Regions from separate parts of the Homo sapiens genome. Here region 2 is linked to region 1. The links come from fine-mapping of genetic effects on gene expression. A gene starts in region 1. The other region holds a variant in brackets. All regions are shown on one strand. Distances are from middle to middle. Region 1 holds the start of IQSEC3 (IQ motif and Sec7 domain ArfGEF 3). Region 2 overlaps IQSEC3 (IQ motif and Sec7 domain ArfGEF 3).

The links.
Region 2: its variant is fine-mapped to the expression of IQSEC3 in whole blood (INTERVAL, PIP above 0.99). The same link has a PIP of 0.9 or more in nucleus accumbens.

What each region holds. Positions count from the first base shown.
Region 1 is chr12:60,847-71,937 of GRCh38, reverse strand. It overlaps IQSEC3 (IQ motif and Sec7 domain ArfGEF 3), which reads right to left and starts at 5,171. Exons shown (of 14, transcript NM_001170738.2): 1 at 4,502-5,171. The coding sequence starts at 5,055.
Region 2 is chr12:135,252-146,342 of GRCh38, reverse strand. IQSEC3 (IQ motif and Sec7 domain ArfGEF 3) reads right to left here. Exons shown (of 14, transcript NM_001170738.2): 4 at 6,989-8,076; 5 at 5,058-5,219. It overlaps IQSEC3-AS3 (IQSEC3 antisense RNA 3), which reads left to right. Exons shown (of 10, transcript NR_033859.2): 2 at 1,774-2,034; 3 at 2,934-3,104; 4 at 3,710-5,009; 5 at 5,099-5,431; 6 at 5,540-5,695; 7 at 5,973-6,103; 8 at 7,699-7,792; 9 at 7,891-8,043; 10 at 8,716-8,932. Among named protein-coding and RNA genes, the nearest start is that of IQSEC3-AS3, 8.4 kb to the left of the region's middle. RefSeq lists enhancers at 177-676, 677-1,178. The variant C/T (reference allele first, on the strand shown) is at 6,222.

The DNA.
Region 1 (11,091 bases):
ATGCCAGCTTCTAGCTATGAATAAAAAGACGCACACTCCCTTCTCCCAGTGAGCCTTCATCCTGGCCCCATTTCTTAGACTAGAAACTCTCTCCCTGCTGGGGATAGGGGAAGAACAAGAGGATAGGCAGATTGATGAGCATGGGCCATACGATGCCACCTCAGCAACCAGGCCTTCTGGGCACAAGGTAGACAAAGTCCCTGTGTGTTGAGACTGTCCTCACCTAGTGATAGGGTTTGGCCTCATGGGTAGGGACTTAGGATGAGCAGAGGGCTGTATCATCAGAGGCTGGAATGAAATGGACATGCAAAACAGGTATCTCCATAGATTGAATTTTCTGCTTTCTGTTCCCTTTCCAGCTATCCTTGCCTCTTACAATTCTGACATAAACCTTTGACTTCAGTGAAGAAAACCTGCTCTTTGGCTGTTAACATAATTTGTATACTCACCCTTTTTACCTTGTGCTGTTCTGATAGAGGATTGCTTTAGGCAGCTGCAATATACTTACACTTGTTTAGGCATTTCTAGATATGTGTCTCTTTTATTTTGAGCAAGGACCATTTGCTTCTTTCCAATCTTTCCACAGCACTGAGTGCAGGGTTTTGAATAGACTGGACACTTGATACATATAGTTGACTGACAGACCTTCACACTTTCTTTCTTAATAGTTTCCAGGATGGGCCAGTCATGAGCTATCACCTTCAAGCATGCAACTCTGACTCAATAGGAGCAGAGATCCCAGTTCCCATCAGCATCTTAGACAAATCAGGATAAAAAGCACATCCAGAACTCTTCTAGCTATCCCCAGCCTCCAGCCAGAATGAGAAGAGGGAGCTCAAAAGATACTCAAGATTGATTTTGTGTTTAAAGGATAAGGGTAGAGAAGAAAGAGATTTCCCTGTGTAGCTTATGTGGAAGAAGGATAGAAGGAAGAGAAGATGGGAGAGATAAAGTGTTTGGGGGAGAGGTAGAAGGGGAGAAGAGAATGAAGGAAAAAGGGTAGTGAGGCAGAGGAGGGATGTGAAAGGAAGAAGCAATGTAACAGAGAGAAGACAGGAGCTGTGGAGCCCTTCAGACTTCATAGTCATATTGAGGTTGGGATTTGGAGTAGGAGATGAATTTGAATGGGGATGCAAGAATTTATCCTCCAGCAATCATCTGCCTGTGGCCTTGGAGACATGGACAAGCCCTGTCATCCATGGACACTAAACGCATGACTGGTGGTTGGGCAAATGTGCTTAGAAGCCACTGAAGCCAGCCACTTCAGATAAGTTCATGTGCTTCCATGGCAAGAGGATTTGTCAGGTCAAGTTGAGGTTCTGGCACCAGCCAGGAAAGGGATAGTAATAAATTCTGTAGATGCCGTGAGCCTTGATTGAAAAAATAAGGAGGAGGAAGCTATGTTTGCTGCTTTCATTAAGAGGCAAAAGCAGTGGGGGTCAGAGCTTAGCAAGAATCAAGAAGCATGCAGAGAAATAATTTTAACCCTTCAAATGTTTTTCTTCCATAATATCTCTGCATTCACTCACCCACATATTGCTGCTTTCTTGGACTGACCTCCAAGACCACCACCTTTGTGTCTCCCTCAGCTGAAGGAGGGAGAGAGGCCAGATTATGTATTAATGCAGATAAGATGGCAATTAAATGATTCATTATTTTCCAGTCCCAGTTATCTAGGGCTTCTGCCTCTCCTGGAATTGGGTAGGAAGAGGAGTTCTGGGGATAAAAGTCAAACTGTGTGAGGACATAATGCATCTACCAGAGTGCCTGGCCTCTGGAAACCCTCACCCACTCTTCAGCCACCTCAGTGGGGTCGCGTTCTTGCTGAAAGGAGGCCAGAGGAAGAATGAGGGAGGATTCACAGGAAACCCATGATTGGAAGACCCACTGTGCCATCTCTTCCTCCCGCTTCAGCACTCCCAGTAGAGAACCAGTTCTGCGGGGAGCTCCCCAGGAGCAATACCAGGGAGGGGGCTGCTGGCTCTGCTCTCCTCCTCCTCACCTCTCCCTCTCCATGGAGATCTCTGTCTGCCTGCTGGCTCCATCTTGTCCTGCATCATAGACAACTATGGGCAGAGGAGAACAAACATACAAAACGGGCCACGGGCAGAGAGCAGGGTAGGACGAAACATGTCATTAGCAATGGTGATTCCGTCCTGAGCTCTGTGGGGAAATTGGTGTTGAAGTTGGGCCACTGTGGGGAAAGAAATGAGTGGTCCAGAAGATATTCAACCAGCCAAGATTACCATGTTTTCACATCCAAGGAAGGAGAGCTGCAGGGATGAGGGGAGGCAGGCACATCTATGGTCTCTATGTTTCTGAGTGTGCAGGATTGGGGAGCAGGAGAAAAAGCTGGAGAATCTGGAGAAAGTAAGGCATTACTGTTAAGTGCCTGGGGCAACTTTCTAAGTGAAAGATTCCAATAACTTCCACTCTGCTCCACCATGCTAATTATTTTTTATTTTTGTTCTGCTCCTTTGGGAAGCAAAAGCAGGACAGGTGAGAAGGAAAGGTGAGGATATTATAACTCCTCTCCAGAATTGACATGTGGAGCTGGACAGGAGCCCAGATGATTCCTAAATCCCAGGATTCCGAGCAGGACCAACTGAGTGAAAGGGTTTGGGTTCCGTAGGCCACTCTGAAGGCTATGGCTATGTCTTTGTCTAAGAAAAATAATCTTTCCTCAACTCTTCTTGGCCACACAGTGCCCTGAAGAGATGCAAAGAAAGTGGAGTTGCAGTGGGAGAGACAGGAGACACCAAAAGTCATGAGGAGAGAAATCATAATGACCAGGTAGCTGTGGCTGCCCTCAGGGAAGGGGACTGGAAAAATTCATCCCCTCATGTGGGGGAAAAGACCACTTAGTATCTTGGAACAATGTTGCCTTTTGCTGAGCCTTGGGCATTGAGGGAAAACTGACTTTCTGCTTTTTATGCCAGATAAGGAAAAAATAAAAATAAAAATGTGAAACTGAGGGAAGTACAAAGGGGTTTTGAGGGAGTTGGGGTAGAAAACTGTATCTTCTTGGGACTTGAATCAAATGTTTTAAGTCTGCCAAGCCAGATCATGTTAGACCTTCACCTCTTAGATCCTGTGGTTTTGATCAACGTGCTCTGTGAGCTACCCTGCCCTAACCCAACTTCTCTAACTCTACCACAGATGGTAAAAGAAAATGAGTTTTGAAGGAATACAGCAAATATTCACAAGTATCTCCCAGACTTAATGCACCTGGATGAAGATGAGATTCTCAGCTCTACTTCCCCCTCCCCATTCCCTTATGCATCACCATTGTCAAGGTCAGGTGCTGACCAGGGACAATTTCCCTTGAACTGTTCTTTGTTTAGTTCTCCATCACTTGCCTAATCAGAGAAAAGAAGCAGACATGGCCACAGCCTTTCCAGTACAGAGGAGAGAACATCCCAGACACTTTCATATCTTCTTCCCATATTCCTAGTTCATGGACCTCCTGAGTGAAGAAAGAGCTTGAAGTTCTAGGAACTGAGAGGTTAACATTTCTCTCAGGACCCAAGGCAAGATTTCAGTGATCACCAGATAACCGGGAAAAAAGGGTTTGCAGTTGCTGGCCTTAACAGGGAGATTTAAACAGGCATGGCATCTGAATACCAACTCCATCTGCCAACTGTCCCCCATGTCATTGCTCCCTTTCAACAACGGCCAAACACCCTGTATGAAAAACCCTCCTTGAGTTGGAGGAAAAAGCTGTAACCAGACTGAGTCCTCAAGCCATGCCTGAGTCCTCCATTGGTTTGATGGGATGTTCCCTTGCACCTCTTCGGCTCTGCGGGAATTCAGAGGAAGGGTGTCCAATCAGGTCAGAGAAGAGAAAGCTTCCCTAAATGAGCCACTCCTAGCTGTGGCTCCCACTTCACCAGCTAAAGAGCCACATTTTCTCTTCCTCTGCCTCCAGCTCCCTTGGTTTCCCACATCACTCCTGCTTTTCAGGTTTGTCCCCGGCCTCCTGGATTCCCCTCTACCCCAGTCCTACTCTTCCTGGGCCCCAGCCTTTTTAAAGCTCTTCACATGCCTCTTTCCAAGCCTTCAGCTTTTCTCACATCTCAGTCTCCATGCAAATACTTTTACTACCCAAACTTCCTTCCAAATTTTTTCTCACTTAAAAAGATTCCTTCAATGGTTCTCTTTTCTACAGTTTAATCTTCACTCGAACTTCAACCCAGCCTAACCCCGTTTAAATGCTGTCAGTTCCCAGTATCACCAATCGCTTAACACCCACCTCCTTCCTCCTTTGCTCCTACTAATGGTCTGGTTACTCCTTTTTGCTCCAGCATTCCCCAAAACCTTCTCAAGCAGGGATATCGTTCCCTCATTTACCCAAAATCTCCTTTGCACACTTCTGGCGCCTTCAGGCCACATCACTCCGGTCCTTTAGACTCCTACGCACCCAACGTCCCCGTCTCTCCCTCACACCCACTTGCTTCCCTTGCTCCCACCACAACAGTGCCCATCTCCTCTCCCCGCTCACTCAGGTCTCCTGCTCAGGACGCCCTTGCCGAGGGCGGAGGGGGATTTGTGCTGAAGGAGGGCTCCGGCAGCAGCGCAGCAACTCGGGGGACGCTCCTTCTCCTTGTCAGTCACGGCCCCTTGTGTCCCCAGATGCTTGTGGGGCGACTGGGGTGTGTGAGCCCTGCTGCCAGGGCCCCGCTGGGGCTGCTCCAGGAGCTGTCCGTGGTGCTGACGCGGCGGCCGATCGGGCGCGGGATGCGGCGCGGCTGCTGAGCGCTGTCCCTGGTCCTGGAGAGGTTCCTGGGCCCTGGCGGCGGCGGCAGGAGCGGTGGCCGGAGCGGCCGGCAGCGGGGCCGATGACGGGGGGACGAGCCCGGGCGGAGGCTGGGCTTGCAGCAGCTGCTGGTGCTCCCACAGGCTGCGGTTCTCAGCGCTCAGCTCGTCCAGCCGCCGCTCCAGCTCGTCGATACGCTCTCGCTGGGTGTGGATGAGGCTCTGCTGGTTCTGCACGATGGCCGTGAGCTCCTTGAGGTAGAGCACGGCGCGCACCGGATTCTCCAGCAGGCTCTCCATGCCGCCCGCCGCCGCCTGCGCCCTGCCTGCGCCTGGGCTGGCGGCGGGGAGCGCGAGGGCGCGGGAGCCCAGCAGCCCAGCGGTCGGCTCGCCTCCCTCTCCCACCGGCCCAGCCTCCCTCCCCCCGCCGGCGCCGCGTCACTGCCACCCCGACCTTCACACACGCATCGCGGGGCGGGGCGGCTGCGCAAGGCCCCACCCCCACCCCACCCCCTACCTCCAGACCTCCCCAACTCCTCGCCTCCCCACCTCGCTGCCTCTTGGCGTCAGCGAAGGCTCTGCTGCCTGCAGGGCAGAGAGGAGAGGGAGGAGGCCAGCGAGAGGGAGCCTCTGTCGGGGCGTGGGAGGAAAGCAAGATAACGCAGGCGACCCGAGAAGGACGGTGAATCTGACTGGCCAGACTGGGAAGTAGGCGAAGGGGAAGCAGCGATACTGGGAAGGTGCGGTGGGACCTGTAGGAGAAGAGAAACAGAAAAGAAAGGAAGAGAAGGGGAGAGGCCAGCAGAGAGGAAGCAGAAAAAGGGAAGGTGGGGCCAAGAAAGAGAAATGTGCTGGAGGACAGGAAGGCGTGGGGCCCTGAAGGGACGCGAATTCTTTTTTCCCAGGTCCAGGCCTTCCAGAGGCTGGGGTTCATCTAGAGACCTGCTGAGGAGGGGCCACACTCGCCTCTTTTGCTCGCAGCAATCTATTCTGCCAGGGGATTCCCTGGAACACAAGAATCCTGGGGCTCTAAGGGACCCTAAAGAGCGTCTGGTCCTGCTCCTTCCTTCATCCGTGACGAAACTTGGGATGGGAAGGCTGTTCATGCTGGGTTTCCTCTGGGAGTGAGACCTCAAGACAACTGTGGCAGTTCCTGATAGAAACACTAAATAAACGAGGTCCTCTGTGGCAAGGGCTAACGCTTCCAGAAGCTTCTGAATAGATCATTCTATTTGACAAACAGTTATAAAATGCACACTATTACCAAACACTGTGCTAGATGGTGGTAAGAGAAGCATGACTAGAATGGAATGTTAGGCTTTTTGAAGCTTATAAATAAGTGGGTGAAATTGGTCATGATTAACTTTGACGTATGATAGTGGTGGTGAGTAATCAGGCAGAGGTTTGCCCAGAGTGCTATAGGAGCCAGCAGCTTGGAGATCCAGGGAGGCTTCTTACAGGAAGTGACCCTTGGTGTGGGAAGGGTTTTCCATAAAGGGAAGACAGCATGAGCAAAAGCTCAGAGACATTAATCAGCACCGATTGAATCATTCATTCATGTCTACAATAATCACCACTCACTAGGTGCAAAGTAATGTACAGAATCTATGCAAGCCACATCTAGCATAGATAATAAGTTATCATTTCTATAATCAAGTTGATTCCAATCTCATAGAGTAGATATGCCATGCACATGAATAAGTAAAACACAACTCAAGATTTCTGTAAGAGCTCTTCAAGCCAAGTGCCATAGAGTTCAGGGGAGGGAGAGGATTCATTTGACTGTGTTGATCTGATAAGTTCTGACAGAGGTGTTACTCAAGTTGGGCCACGAAGAATGGGAAATATTTCAACAGGTAGACAGAACAGGGGGCCAGATATGAGAAAGATACATCAGGCAGCAGGGAAAAAACTAATGAATGGAAATAGAGCACTTGGTTTAAATTAATTTGGCAGGGAAATATCCCTTTCCTTTTCTTTTCCTTTACTTTTTTTTTTTTTTAAAGTCTTGTCTGTCACCGAGGCTGGAGTGCAGTGGCAGGATCATAGCTTACTCCATCCTTGACCTCCTGGGATCAAGGAATCCTCTAGCCTCAGCTTCCTGAGTAGGTGGGACTACAGATGCATACCACCATGCCCCGTGAAGGAAATGAGTTGTTCTTTCCTCTTTTATAGGAATGGGATGGGAAGGAGGAAGGGCTATGAGTACGCTTCGCATGTTTGTTATTGTGTTGTTCCGTTCTTCACACACATGTCCATCAGGCTCCCTGTCAACCTTCCATTCCCCCAGGGTAGGCATATTTATGGGTACCATGTGCCCAGTGAGCTGGCCCACCCCCCACCACCACGTGGTGCCAGACTTGAATGACCTTATGAGAAGGAACTTGTGCTCTGCACATATATTGGTTTATCTGCATTCCTGATGTGTTTTTATTTTGCTTTTCTCCCATTTATCTTCCTAGCAAACTTTCTTTGGTAAAGAATGAATAAAGGAAGCTTATCCACAGCTGAGCTCACGGTTAGGGGAAACAGCACACAGGAGGATGCTTTGGTAGTGACCAGCATTCCAGCTAAAGAATGGAGGTTGGGGGATGAAACAAGGGCACACAAAAACTCAAACTCTTTTTTCTGAATTTTCTTTGTTTGCCTAGTTGATTTGCTGTCCAAGAATTGGGTGCTTGGACAGCAAATTAGAGACGAATACGATAAGTGAAACAGCCTGCAGCATAATTATCCATGCGGATTGTTGAAAATGCAGATTTCTGAGCCCTATATTGTAGCAGGACAAGCCGCAGACAAAATTCCTCAGACACCGAGTTAAAGAAGGAAGGGGTTTATTTGGCTGGGGGCATCGGCAAGACTCCTGTCTCAAGAGCTGAGCTCCCCGAGTGAGCAATTTCTGTCCTTTTTAAGGGTTCACAACTCTAAGGGGGTGCGCGTGAGAGGGTCGTGGTCGATTAAGCAAGCAGGGGGTACGTGACTGGGGGCTGCATGCACCGGTAATTAGATCGGAACACAACAGGATAGGGATTTTTCACAGTGCTTTTCTATACAATGTCTGTAATCTATAGATAACATAACCGATTAGGTCAGGGGTCGATCTTTAACTACCAGGCCCAGGGTGTGGCGCCGGGCTGTCTGCTTGTGGATTTCATTTCTGCCTTTTAGTTTTTAGTTTTTCTTTCTTTGGAGGCAGAAAATGGGCATAAGGCAATATGAGGGGTGGTCTCCTCCCATAATACCAGTCCTGCTGTATTGGAATCACTAGGAATGGGGACCAAGAATTTTTATTTTAAAAACTTTTTTCATTAAAAAAATCAACTTTGTTGACTTATAATTTATATCCAATGATATGCTCCCATTTTATGTGCACAGTTCAATGAATTTTGACAAATGTTCATGCCCTATTTTAGTCAGTTCCTCTCATCCTCAGCTCCAGTTAACCACTGACTTGCTGTCTGCCAGTATATGTTAGTTTTGTCTGTTGTGGAATTTCACATAAAAATCATACAGTATACACTACTTCGTGTCTTTCTTTTTAAATTTTTTATTATTTTAAAAATTACTATGATGATTTTTGTTTTAATAGTTTCTGGGGAACATGTGGTGTTTGGTTACATAGATAAGTTCTTTTGTGGTGATTTCTGAGATTTTGGAGCACCCATCACCTGAGCAGTGTACACCGTACCTAATGTGTAGTCTTTTATCTCTTACCCCACTCCCACCCTTCTCCCAAGTCCCCAGAGTCCATTGCATCATCCTTAAGCCTTTGAGTCCTCATAGCTTAGTTCCCACTTACACATGAGAACATATGATATTTGGTTTTCCATTCCTGAGTTACTTCACTTGGAATAATGATCTCCAACTCCATCCAGGTTGCTGCCAATGCCATTATTTCATTCCTTTTTAAATCCACTCATTGATTGATGGGCATTTGGGCTGGTTTCATATTTTTGCAATTGTGAATTGTGCTGCTATAAACATATGTGTGCAAGTGTCTTTTTTTCATATAATGCTTTCTTTTCCTCTGGATAAATACCCAGTAGTGGGATTGCTGGATCAAATGGTAGATCTACGTTTAGTTCTTTAAGGAATCTCCATACTGTTTTCCATAGTGGTCGTACTAGTTTACATTCCCACCAGCAGTGTAAAAGTGTTTCCTTTTCACCAAATTCATGCCAATATCTATTATTTTTTGATTTTTAAATTATGGCCATTCTTGCAGGAGTTAGGTGGTATCACATTGTGTGGTGTTTTTTGTTGTTGTTGTTTGTTTTGTTTGTTTGTTTTTGAGATAAAGTCTTGTTCTGTCACCCAGGCTGGAGTGCAGTGGCTCGACCTCAGCTCACTGCAACCTCCACCTCCTGGGTTCAAGTGATTCATCTGCCTCAGCCTTTGGAGTTCAAGTGATTCTCCTGCCTCAGCCTCCCAAGTACCAAGTAGCTGGGACTACAGGAGTGTACAACCATGCCCGGCAATTTTTGTGTTTTTAGTAGAGATGTGGGTTTCACCCTGTTGGTCTTGAACTCCTGACCTCAGGTGATCCACCTGCCGCAGCCTCCCAAAGTGCTGGGATTACAGGTGTGAGCCACGATGTCTGGCCAGCACTGTGGTTTTGATTTGCATTTCCCTTATCACTAGTGATGTTGAGCATTTTTTTCATATGTTTGTTGGCCATTTGTATATATTCTTTTGAGAATTGTTATTTATGTCCTTAGCCCACTTTTTGATGGGATTATTTGTTTTTTTCTTGCTGATTTGTTTGAGTTCCTTGTAGATTCTGGATATTAGACCTGTGTTGGATGCATAGTTTGTGAAAATTTCCCCCACTCTGTGGGTTGTCTGTTTACTCTGCTGATTATTTCTTTTGCTGTGCAGAAGCTTTCTAGTTTAATTAAGTCCTTCTATTTATCTTTGTTGCATTTGCTTTCAGGTTGTTGGTCATGAACTCTTTGCCTAAGCCAATGTCTAGAAGAGTTTTTCCAATGTTATCTTTTAGAATTTTTATGATTTCAGGTCTTAGATTTAAGTATTTGATTCATCTTGAATTGATTTTTGTATAAGGTGAGAGATGAGGGTGCAGATTTATTCTTCTACATGTGGCTAGCCAATTATCCCAGCACCACTTGTTGAATAGTGTGTCCTTTCCCTATTTTATGTTCTCATTTGCTTTGTCAAAGATCAGTTGGGTGTAAGTATTTGGCTTTATTTCTGGGATTGCTAGTCTCTTCCATTGGTCTGTGTGCCTATTTTTATACCAGTACCATGCTGTTTTGGTGATGATAGCCTGGTAGTATAGTTTGAAGTCAGGTAATGTGATGCCTCCAGATTTGATCTTTTTCTTTAGTCTTGGTTTGGCTATGTGGGCTCTTTTGTTCCATATGAATTTAAGGTTTTTTTTTTTTCTAGTTCTGTGAAGAACGATAATGGTATTTTGATGAGAATTGCATTGAATTTATAGATTGCTTTTGGCAGTATGGTCATTTTCACAATATTGATTCTATTCATTCATGAGTATGGGGTATGTTTCCATTTGTTTGTGTCATCTATGATTTCTTTCAGCAATGTTTTGTAGTTTTCCTTGCAGAGATCTTTCACCTCCTTGGTTAGGTATATTCCTAAGTATTTTATTTTATTTTTTGCAGTTATTGTAAAAGGGGTTGAGTTATTGCTTTGTTTCTCAGCTTGGTTGCTGTTGGAGTCTAGCAGTGTTACTGATTTGTGTACATTGATTTTGTATCCTGAAACTTTACTGAATTCATTTATCAGATCTCGGAGCTTTTTGGGTGAGTGCTTAGGGTGTTCTAGGTATACAATCATATCATCAGCAAATAGCAACAGTTTGACTTCCTCATTACCAATTTGGATGTCATTTATTTCTTTCTCTTGTCTGATTGCTCTGGCTAGGACTTCCAGTACTATGTTGAATAGAAGTGGTGAAAGTGGGCATCCTTACATTGTTCCAGTGCTCAGGGGGAATGCTTTCAGCTTTTTCCCCTTCAATATAATGTTGGCTGTGGGTTTGTCACAGATGGCTTTTATTACCTTAAGGTATGTTTTTTTCTATGTAGATTTTGTTGAGGGTTTTAATCATAAAGGGATGCTGGATTTTGTCAAATGCTTTTTCTGTGTCTATTGAGATGACAATGTGATTTTTTTAACAAAAATTCTGTTTATGTGGTGTATCACATTTATTGACTTGTGGATGTTAAACCATCCCTGTATCCCTGGTGTGAAACCCACTTGATCATGGGGGATTATCTTTTTGCTATGCTGTTGGATTTGGTTAGGTAGTATTTTGTTGAGGATTTTTATATCTATATTCATCAGGGACAT
Region 2 (11,091 bases), 74 kb before region 1:
TCCCTGCCTGGGCCTCTTTTTATCTCCTCCGGACACATAAGGTCTGCCTGGGCCCCAGCCTGCTCTCCCCTTCCTCATGGGAATTCCTCAGGAATAAGGTAACTGAGATTATACACAGCAATGTGGGCAGGACATTCTCAAATGATTTCTTCCTAGCAATGAAAGGCCAGAGCCTTCCAGACTGTTGAATTTGACAGACAATCTGTCTTCATTTCTAAACGTCCTCTAAGAAGAACAAATCTGTTATACTCTGGCCAACATATTTCCATGGAAATAAAATAATGAAATCTGACCCAAACGTCAAACCCTGATATGTCTTGGAATTTAACAAAGGATGGAGCAGACGCAGTGGAGGGAAGGAACACCCAGGAAGCTTTCTTCCGGCAGCTCAACCCAGAAGCTGCCTTCCTGCATTTCATGGAGATGGTAGACACCAATGCTCTCCACGTGCATGGGATTCACACCAGAAAAAATCATCCAGGCCAGAAAGAGGCCGCTCACAGCCAGCATGGAACGTTCCCCATCCGCTGGACTTTAAACCTGCTGAAGCGAACATTTCAGAAAGGAAATAGAGCAGAGCCAAATTCCCCAGCCATGTGAAAACCGAGAGGGAGAGGCTTCCAGCCCTAGAGGGCCCTAGCTCTGGCTGCTGTCTGGCTCCTGCCGCTGGCCTGCCACCGCGTGACTCTCAGCTTCTGGACCGGGCTTCCTCAGGCTGCAGGATGCTCCCCAGATTGAGCTGACCCCCTTCCCAGCAAAGCCCAGCAAGTTCCAGCAAGTTCTCATTGTCTGCCTAGTAGACCTGAGTTTGAGTCATGTTTGAGGAGGTTTCCTTGTGCGCGGGGAATGGGATGGCGGGGAGTGGAGGGTTCTAATGTCTGTGCTTTTAAGTAGAAAAGATAATAATGAAATAGCTAACATTTAGCCTGTAGTCCCAGCTACTCAGGAGGCCGAGGTAGGAGGAGCACTTGGGCCCGGGAGTTCAAGTTGCAGCGAGCTTTGATCATGCCACTGCCCAGTAGCCCTGGTGACAAAGAGAGATCCTGTCTCTAATAGAAAAAGAAAAGAAAGAGCTAACATTTACAGATAACTTACTAAGCATCAGGCACTTCATGTACATTGAAAACGTTTGATTCATATGAGACAGGTACTCTTACCAGCATTTTACTAATGAGGAAACTGAGGCTGATTTCTTCTCTAAAAACAAACAGGCTGGGCCTAGTGATTCATGCCTGTAATTCCAGCATTTTGGGAGGCTGAGGTGGGAGCACTGTGTGAGGCCAGGAGTTTGAGACCAGCTGGGCAACACAGTGAGACCCCCATCGCTACAAAAATATTTAACAATTAGCCAGGTGTGGTGGCACATGCCAGTGGTTTCAGCTCTTCAGGAGGCTGAGGTGAGGGGTTCTCTTGAGCCTGGGAATTTAAGGCTGCAGTGAGCCATGGTTGCACCACTGCACTCCAGGCAACAGAGCAAGACTCTGTCTCAAAAAAACCAAAAGCGAAACCTTTGCAGGTAAACACTGGAATGGGTGTGGCTCTTTGAGCTCAGAATGCCTTCTATTATTGTCATTTGATAAGGCCTGGTAAGAATACATTCCTTCTTGGAATGTGTCTTCTGTGAAAATAAGATACAAAAGGATGGAGATGTCAGCTTCCAAGAGCGCTGAGGGCCGAATTCTGAAAGCAAATGTCACAGCATTCATGATGCTCAGACACAGACCAGCAGCCGAGGTGGCAGCTGCTCTCTCCCTCCTCTTCCTTTCCGCACAGGCCTGACGGTTGGGAAGCACACCCTTCCCCTCTCAGAGGCTTTCTCATCGGCTCTTCCTCATCGGCTGCTTCTTGGGAGAGTGCTGCGGTTTGGGCTGTTTTAGTCTCCAAGGGGATGGGTGATTTATATCCTTTTATTCGGCAAACAGCTTTGTACAGAATGAATACCGCTTGCTGAATGTCACCAGGCGGGGGCAGGGGAGCCGTATAGAATCCCAGTGAAGCCTTCCAGGCCTGGGCAAAATGGCACCTGGCGACTCGGTTAGTGTGTGTGTTTTCTCCGGCGGGAGTAAGGAAGACACAGTCAGAGTGGAAGGGAAATGCAAAGACTCCAGCGCCCCCCTCCCCTGCTAGTGCCTGCCACTTTCTGCTTCTCCATCTTCTCCTGCCCTTTGCAGGACAGGGCCCTCTCCACCTCGGAGAGAAGCAAGGCAGTCAGTGACCTATGGACTTCAGGGAGGGGCTCCTTTCTGTGGCGCTGAGTCAGCATGCCAGGCCTGCAGGGCTACACAATCAAGCATGAGGGATTGCGGCTTTCACCAGGGCATATCAGGGCTTAGCTCTGCACTCAACCTTGCCCAAGCCAGGGTTCCGGCTGGAGGCCCCTTGCTCTTCTCACTCTCTTTCCATGCTCCTGCTTCTCACCTCTCCCCATCCACACCTGGGTCTGTACGTTCCCTGAGACTGTGAGCCATGCCTCTTCACACACACACACACACACACACACACACACACACACACACGGGTGCCCAGCGTGGCCCCATTCTCAACACACAATAAATAAGTGCTCGATGTTTGTTGAATGAATAACAAATGGCCAACTCATTCCCCCATGAACCCTGGCACCCCAGCACTGCCCTGCATGAACCCTGGCACCCCAGCACTGCCCTGCATGAACGCTGGCACCCCAGCACTGCCCTGCATGAACGCTGGCACCCCAGCACTGCCCTGCATGAACTCTGGCACCCCAGCACTGCCCTGCATGAACTCTGGCACCCCAGCACGGCCCTGGGGCCTGTGGGCTGCTCTGGCAGGATGACAAATCATGCCCCAGTGTTTAGGGCAGTGCTACCAATGCACTAAGAGATGGGAAAGGTGGTAGATTCTCAGGACTTGGAGAAACTTTTGCAATCACATCGCCCAGCCCTCTCATTTTACAGATGAGGACACCGAGGCCCAGAGAGGTGTCCTGCCAAAGCCACACAGCACAGAGGAGCAGAGCCCGGGTCCAGCTATTTCTCCTATCTCACCACGCTGCCTCTTCTCACTGGAAGAGTGTACCAACGCGGGAGTCTGGCCCCTACCCATCCCAAGCCTGATCCCTACCTAAGGTTAGCCCAGCCCCCAGCCCCCAGCCCAGCTCCCCTCCTCAGCACAGGCTTGCAGCCACTGCTCCAAGCCTCCAGCCCACAGCCCATACACGCAGCCTCCCAGGGAAGAGGGCAATTAGTTTCCATTGTGCGACTCAGCACCACCTGGGCTGCAGGAAAACGCTGTGTTCCCAGCACTCCAGATCAATGTGGGCCTTGCAGGTTAGAATTTAGGGCGCAGGCCACATGGAGACTGGGAAAGACAGAAGAAAACAGACAACAGTCAGGGCCTGTGGGTGAAGCAGAGTCACTCCTGCCCCCAGAGCAGAGAGACAGCAGGGGTGCCTGGGGCTACGGGGCCAGCACCTCACCCTGGCTTGGGAAGGGATGGACTGGGACAACAGTGCAGGAAAGCCAGAGAGATGAGCCAACTAGGGGACACAGAAAAGGAAGGGCGTGAGGAAATGCCATCTCTCCCCTTCTGCAACCTAGATGTATCCTGGATCCCAGTAGCACCTCCATGGGCCCCCACAGCAGTGCTGGGGAAGGGAAGGGAAGCCGGAGGGAGAAGAGAAAGGAGGTGAGAGGGAGGCGCTGCCTAGCATTGTCTCTCTTTCCTCTTTGAGGTCCACAGAGCGTCTCCACCAGCAGCTCCAGGAGGGATGATAAATTGTCAAAAGCCACCAAGAGTCAGGGACAGGAACTCAGTTCTGCCCAGCTGAGGGCTGTGCAGGGATTTCAAGGTACCTGTGCGAACCCCAGCCCTCACTCATTGAACTCAGTCAGAAAACCACCGCGTCAGTGGATTTAGAAATGTGACAGGGATTTCAGAGGGCAATGGGTCCAGCCCTCACAACCCAGCACCACTCTGCAGGCATGGAAACGCAGGCCCAGAGGACAGGGGCTTCTCAATATGGGCACACAGCACCAAGACAGCTCCATAAATAGAAGTGAAATATCCAAGCTCCCACTCCAGGGAAGCTGACCACTGGGTGGATGACTCCCCCAGCGTCCAAACCCTCTCTGGCAGTCCCTTGCTGCTCCAGGAGCGAGGATGAAAGGGAGAGCTCTTCCCAGGGCCTCCGGGGAGACACTTCTGCTGACTGTCCCCAAGGAGAAAGAGGGGAGAGAAATGAGGGAGGGTCCCTGAAGAATGGAGACCTTCAAGAAGGAGGCCAACCTCGGGGACCAGTGGAAGCCAGAAAGAGCACGGGGGCATGGCAGGGGCTGAAGCCGATGTCCCAGGGAAGGAGTAGCTGCAAGGCCCCTCAGCCTCAGAGGAGCGCCAGCCCCGCCCTGCCATTCTGGACAAGGCATGAGTGTGAAGAGACTCTTGCCTGTCCACACTATCAAGGCTGAGCGGGGGCAAAGGCAGCCCCCTGGGGGTCCCCACCCTGCTACTGGACTTTAAAACCATTTTCTTTGGTTTTAAAGAAACAATTTTTCTTTGGTCATGATTTTGTTGGTAGATTTATCTTTATGGAATTGTAGTATTTTCTTGCTCTAAAACCCTCAGTTTAACCCCTTCTTTTTTCTGTCTCACATTTTTGCCTCCAGCGATATGAAAATGAACCTTGGAGAATGGGAGGGTCCTGGGGGAGGGGGGCTGAGGGGCTCTTCACCAGGCAGAGATGAACCCCAGTGCTGACACAAGCCCTTTCCTTTTCCTGGTTTCTCTTGCCCTGGAGAGTGACAGGCAGAAAGGGCTTTTTGTCTCTTTGGACCATTTCTGTATCCCTGCTGCCTCAAACGAAGCCTGGCCTGGGGCGAACTCAATCAATGACTCTGACGGGAGACAGGGCTCCGGCCCACTGGGGTGATGGGCTAAAGAGGGGATTCTGGTTCCTGTGGACAATCTGGAAGCTGGAAGCTGTTAGAACTGGAGCGAGGATTTCACCAAGGAGCTCACAGAGAGAGCCCGGGCAGGTGGGGTGTGGGAAGGAGTGGGGAAAGCCCGGAGTGTGGGGTACTCACTCCAGCACGTCGCGGTTGAACTGCTTCTTGCTGTTGCCCAGGAACTCTCCAATCATCTGGCGGCTGAGGCCCTTTCGCTGGAGGAGGAAATGGGCCACACCGATGGGGGTGTCCGGGATGAAGCCGCGTGAGATCAGGAACTGGATGCCCTTGTCGGGGTTTCTGGAGGTGGGGGTGGGGAGAAGCAGTAGAGAGTGAGCTGAAGCCATCCATGACTCTTTCCTCCCTGTCTTCCACCCATAGAAGTACCCAGAGGTTCTTGGAAATCCAGTTCCCCATTGAAGCTTCTCTCACCAGAGCCTCAACCCACTGAATGTCCTCACGCAGAGGATGGTGTGTGACCAGAAGGAGGACAGGGGAGATCTGCAAACAAAGTGAATTCCAGAGCAGATGGAGGAGAAGTACCCTTCTCTGTCCCTGCCTCCTGGGTCTTACCCCAGTCCTGCCCTTCCCCCTACCCATATCCTGTTGTCAATATGCAGGTCCCCACCGCAGACGCCCCAACCCTGGAGAGAGGGTGGGAGAAACAGAGGTGAGACCTCCGCCACACCACCTCTTCCCTTTGCAAGCTTTGAAGCCATGCTGCTCCCTGAGCTGTTCCTCACAGGTCCGGGAGGAGATAAGTACAGAAACACAAGGTAAGCACTGAGAACCTCCCATAGCATTTCGACATTTTCCGGGACAGCCAGGCATGTGATTGTCTTTCTAGCACCTCATTTTTATTGTATTTTACAAAAGTATTAGCCCACAATGTATTTTCAGAAGGGTGTGGGGGAACAAAACTGGTTCTTCACTATGGATAGTTTAAGAATTCCTGTCTTGGGGCAGATGAGTGTCTGTATGAGTTTTCATGTGCATGCAGAAGAGACACTGCAGAAGTGGGAGTGGTTCAGAGTCAGATCCGCCTTTCCCTAGGTCTGCCGAGTACTAGCTATTTCATCGTGTGCATTTCGCCTTACTGGTGTGAGCCGGCTTCTTTTCTGTAAAACAGCATGGTAATACCTCTGTGTAGATACTGCTGGAAGATTACAGATGCTTTATGTAAGGTGAGCTATGAACAGTAGCTACTTCCCCTAGAATAGGAGCCTCTTGAGGCCAGGGGATGTGTCCTTCTCACCTCTGTGGTCACAGTGCCTGGCACCCAATAAATAACAGCCGAATGAA[C/T]GAATGAACACGCATTAGGGCCGGGGAGATGTGCTCTTGGCGCAGGGTTATGAAGGGGCGAGTGGAGGATGGAGGCGAGTGCCTGCCTCCTGGACCTGACATTTCCATGGGAGGGGCAGGTGTGCTTCCTTTCCTCTGCTTGGGACTGGCTGTATACATTCGGTGCAGGACCAGTCCCGGTCTCGCTGGGGTCTCTGAGCTATGGCGGTCGGTCATTTCTCCCCTGTTCTCTTTCTCCTGTGCCTCTGCCTGCTTCACACTCTCTCTTCCTCGTAGCCCTCCCCTCTCCTGCTCTCAGCCGGCATTCTTTACGAGGCGCCTCTCCTCCCTCCCCCACCCAGCCTCGCATTTCACCAACCCTGGGAGCTAATGCGTTTTCCCTGGCTTCATATCCACCCGAATGATTGCTGCGTAATCCTCAAACGGCCTGGACTGTTATTTACTTAATACTGTCTTTTCTTTTACATTCTCTTACTTTTCAAACCCTAGCTTCATCTTAAGCTGTAACAGTTGTGAAAGCATGTGTCTGATGTGTTATTTTTTTCCTTTAATCTTTCTTAAAATAAACTCAGGATGATTAAAATAAAATATGTACTTCCTAAACATGACCTCAGGGATCAGGCACGGCACAGATGCGCCTGCCTGGAGGACCCTGGCATGACGTGGGAAGTTACCTGGCGCCCTGCTTGGTGGAGGGAAGGTGCCCTCCTCCTTCCCTCCCTCCCAGGACGCCCAGGACTCCGGGCTGGGGGCCGGGGCTGACTTACATGTTGAAGAGGTTGAGGCCGATGCGGTAGAGCCGCTTGCGCAGGGTGTCGGTGGAGAGCGTGGGCGACTTGCAGCTGGCTGGGTTCTCGCAGTGGTAGCGCGGCAGGCTCAGGATCATGGCCTGCAGGGCGTCCTTGGAGGCGGAGGCCGACGCCTCCGAGCCTGACTTGGCGGACTTGGTGGACGTGCTGCTGCTGCTCAGCTGCTCCAAGTCGCCTGCCTCGGCCTCGGCCCCTCTCCCCACCTCCGCCGTCTCCTCCTCCTCCTCTTCCTCCTCTGTTTTGGGGGCTGTGGCCCCATCCGCCGCCCCACTAGCCGCAGCCTCTGCGCATGAGTCCTCGGCTGACGCGTCCTCCCGGCCCACGGCGGGGGCTTCCGGGGCCTCCCGCCCAGAGGTCTCGCCCTGCTCGGCCTTGCCCGCCGCGGGCTCTGCGGGGGCCTGGACCGTCTGAGCGCCCAGGCAGTTGGCCACCGACAGAGCCGTGGAGGAGGAGACGGATATGTTCTGGTTGGCGATCTGCACCGTGACGTCCCGGAAAGCCATCATGAGGGTCCCGCTGTGGGCCGGGGGCAGGCCGGGGGTCTCCGCGGCGTCATCCCCGGGCCCGGGGCCCGCGCTCTCCGGCGCCCGCCCCTCGGCCTCCAGGCCTGGGGGCCCCGCGGCCGCCTGCAGGGCCTGGTGGAGCTGGTAAGCGCCACTCTCCCGCAGGGAGCACATGGTCTTGAGGCTCCACGTGCTGAGCGCGTCGTCGATGGACTTGGCCAGGGATTGCACCTGCTCGGTGAAGGAGTCCTCCAGCTCGGTGAGGGTGCCTGCGAAGGTGGGCGGCAGGGAGGGCGAGCGCACCAGCGGCAGCCCCACGAGGCCGTAGCCCTCCATGAGCGCTTTCTCGGCCGCCAGGCTCTCGGCCGTGGGTGACCGCACCTTGCGCAGGGAGATCCGCCGTGGCAGGCGGCTCTCCAGAAGCGAGTTGCGGATTTTCTCGAAGTTCTTGCTGAGCTGGTATTGGCGGAAGGCGGTTTGGATGGTGCAAGCGGCGCGCCGGGACACCAGGTGACCGCCGTACTTATGTTCTAGCATTTCAATCTGCAAGGACGAGGACAGAGAGGAGGAAGGGCTCAGAGGGGAAGGGTGGTCAGCCCTTCTGAGGAGTGGTGGAGTCACCCGGCCACACTCGGGTGGGGCCCAGGAATGGACGGGGGCGGGGGGGCGCTCCTGGGCAGCTAAAGTCTGAACCGCCTAGAACGTCCTGGCCACGTGGCAAGACTCCTAGAGGTGTAGGACGGAGGGGTCCGTTCTGGGGACTAGTGATGTCTCAAGGGCCAGGAGGGAGGTGCTGCATATGGCGTTCAGATATCGATGCTGTGGCGGGTATTACAAAATGTTCATGGCCGGGCGCATTAGCTCAGGCCTGCAGTCCTAGCATCTTGGGAGGCTAAGGAGAGAAGATTGCTTGAGCTCAGGAGTTTGCGACCAGGCTGGGCAACATAGCTAGACCTTGTCTCTCTCTTGAAAAAAAAAAAAAAATTAACTGGGTGTCCTGGTGCGCGCACGCCTGTGGTCCTCAGCTACTGGGAAGGCTGAGGTGGGAGGACTGCTTGAGCCCAAGGAGTTGGAGATTACAGTGAGCTATGATTGTACCACAGCACTCCAGCCTGGGCAAAACAGTGAGACCTTGTCTCTGTTTTTTTCTTTTCTTTTCTTCTTTTTTTTTTTTTTTTTAAGTTCATGTCAGAGATGCATACAGAAGTACTTATGGGTAAAATGCATGATATCTTGAAGTTGTGTTAAAATATTCTGTCAAAAAATGTGGAAGAGTTAGATGACACAATATTAATGTTAATAAATATTAATAAAATGGTTACAGCTGGATGATAGCTACGGGGGAGTTTATAACACTGTCGTTTCTACTTTTGTGCACACTTTAAAACAATAAACAATGAAAAACAGAAATGCTAAAAAACCTCACAGCTCCTCGTGCTTCCCCGCTCCTCCCCTAAACAATGAAAAACATAAATGCTAAAAACCCTCACAGCTCCTCGTGCTTCCCTGCTCCTCCCCAGCAACCATGTCTCTGTGTTGGGGTGGCTCCTTTCCCTGGGAACATCAGAAGGGTCGGGATTGGGGTTGGACCATCTGTGTGTTCCCAGTACATAGTTAGCTGCTCAGTAAACGTGGATTTGCTAAAAAGTTGAGTGGGTGTCTCAAGAATGGGGGTCCCTCCAGGCCACCATTACCAAGAGTTCCCCAATTTGAGTCACCTCTGCTCTTACGGTGGGAGCTGTCCAACCAGGGCAGGGCTGGGTGGGGTGGGCTCGGGGGCATGGCACCTCACCTGGGCAGATCTGATCCCAGGAAAACTTCTGTCAGGGGGCCAGCGTGCCTCCTCTCGGCTCTGTCCTCCTGTCCGTGGGTTTTCTCCTCTCAGGTTGCTACGCTCTCACTTTTCCTCCCTATGGAAACTTCTCAGGAAAGGACTGGGGAGGTATGACAGCCATGCCCCCAGAGGCTTCTGCCTTTAAATAAGGGACAAGGCCTGTGTGAAGGTGATGGGCTTAAATGGTGGCATCCTAGACTCTGATCAGCCCTCAGAGAAGTTTGGGAAGTGCGAGTGTTTCCTATTCACAACCAGACATGCCACTTACACGTGGTGTCCTTCCCGAATGAACGAAGAATCGGGATGGGTGCGCTGAGATGAACGACTCAAGGCAAGAACAGGGACGTCCCGTGTTCTCCAGGGATCATGGGTGGGGAGGGTACAGATTGTTCTCCAGGGATCATGGATGGCGAGGGTACAGATAGAAAGGCCATACTTCATCCCTCAGCACAACACTTCAACCTGCTTCCTGCTCCACTGGAGCCCCCAAAGGCTGCAGCCAGAATGAATGCCTGCCTCCCACAGCCCAGCCGTGCCCTCTGCTCCCTCCCTGCAGGGTGTGATGGGTGCCCCATTCCACGCTAGCAGAGGTAGCCTCTTAGCTCAGGACACCTTGTGGATTCAACCCCAATCCCCAAGGACAATCCCAGATAAAATGAGACATCCTTAGTGCTTGCCTCCAGTGCTTCCAGCCTGGCCATTCCCATTCCCCATTCCCAAACCTGGGGACATCATTCTGTCTCCCCCAACATCCAACTCTACCCTTGGAGATCGTTGGAACTCACGCAGATTAATGTGTAAATGGCAACTAAGCCTTCCTATATGGCTTCTCCCAAAGTTACTTGCATTTCATGAGGGACAAGGCCCTGAGCAGGAGGAAGCTCCCAGTGCTATCACAATCCCCCTATTGGAGGGGTCTTCAAGGTGCTCTAAACCACACCAAGTGTATTCCTCATCTATTGCTGTGTAACACATGACCACAAATCCAGCCACTTAAAGTAGCACCTGTTTATTTCTCATGCAGCTCTGTGAATCTAGTCTGGGCACAGCTCATCTGGGTTATCTGCTCGGGATCTCACCAGGCTGAAACCAAGATATCAGTCAGGGCTGCAATATCATCTAAGGTGTGGGGTCCTCCTTTGAGCTCGCTCTTGTTGGCACAATTCAATTCCTTGTAATCACAGGACTTAGGCCCTCAGTCACTAGAGGTTGCCTGCTGTCCCCTACCATGTGGCCTGCTTCATAACCTGATAGCTTGGTCCTTCAAGGCTAACGGCACAGTGTCTGTCTGGGGCTTCAGCTTCATTTATAGGGCTGACCTGATTAGCTCAGACCCACCCTGGGTGATGTTTCTTTTTATTAACTCAAAATCAACCAATTGGTAACCTAATCATTGGAGTGATGTCCCATCACATTCACTCATCCTGCCCATACTCAAGGGAAGGGGATTATATAGGATGTGTACACTAGCATGAAGGGGACTTGGGGGCCATCTGAGAATTTTGCCCACGGTACGAACTGGACACTTCCCCACTTGATCTTTACTAGGTATGACCTCATGCACCCATAAGAGACACAGATACTTGCCTCTGAGGCATTCTGTTCCTGCTCCTGTGGAAATAATGTAGCTTGGCTCATTCTCCCTGCTGAACTTTGACACATTCCCTGAGGCCTGGAATAGGGACTTGGCTTTGGCTCAGGCAGGAAAGTCCTTCCCCAAGGGG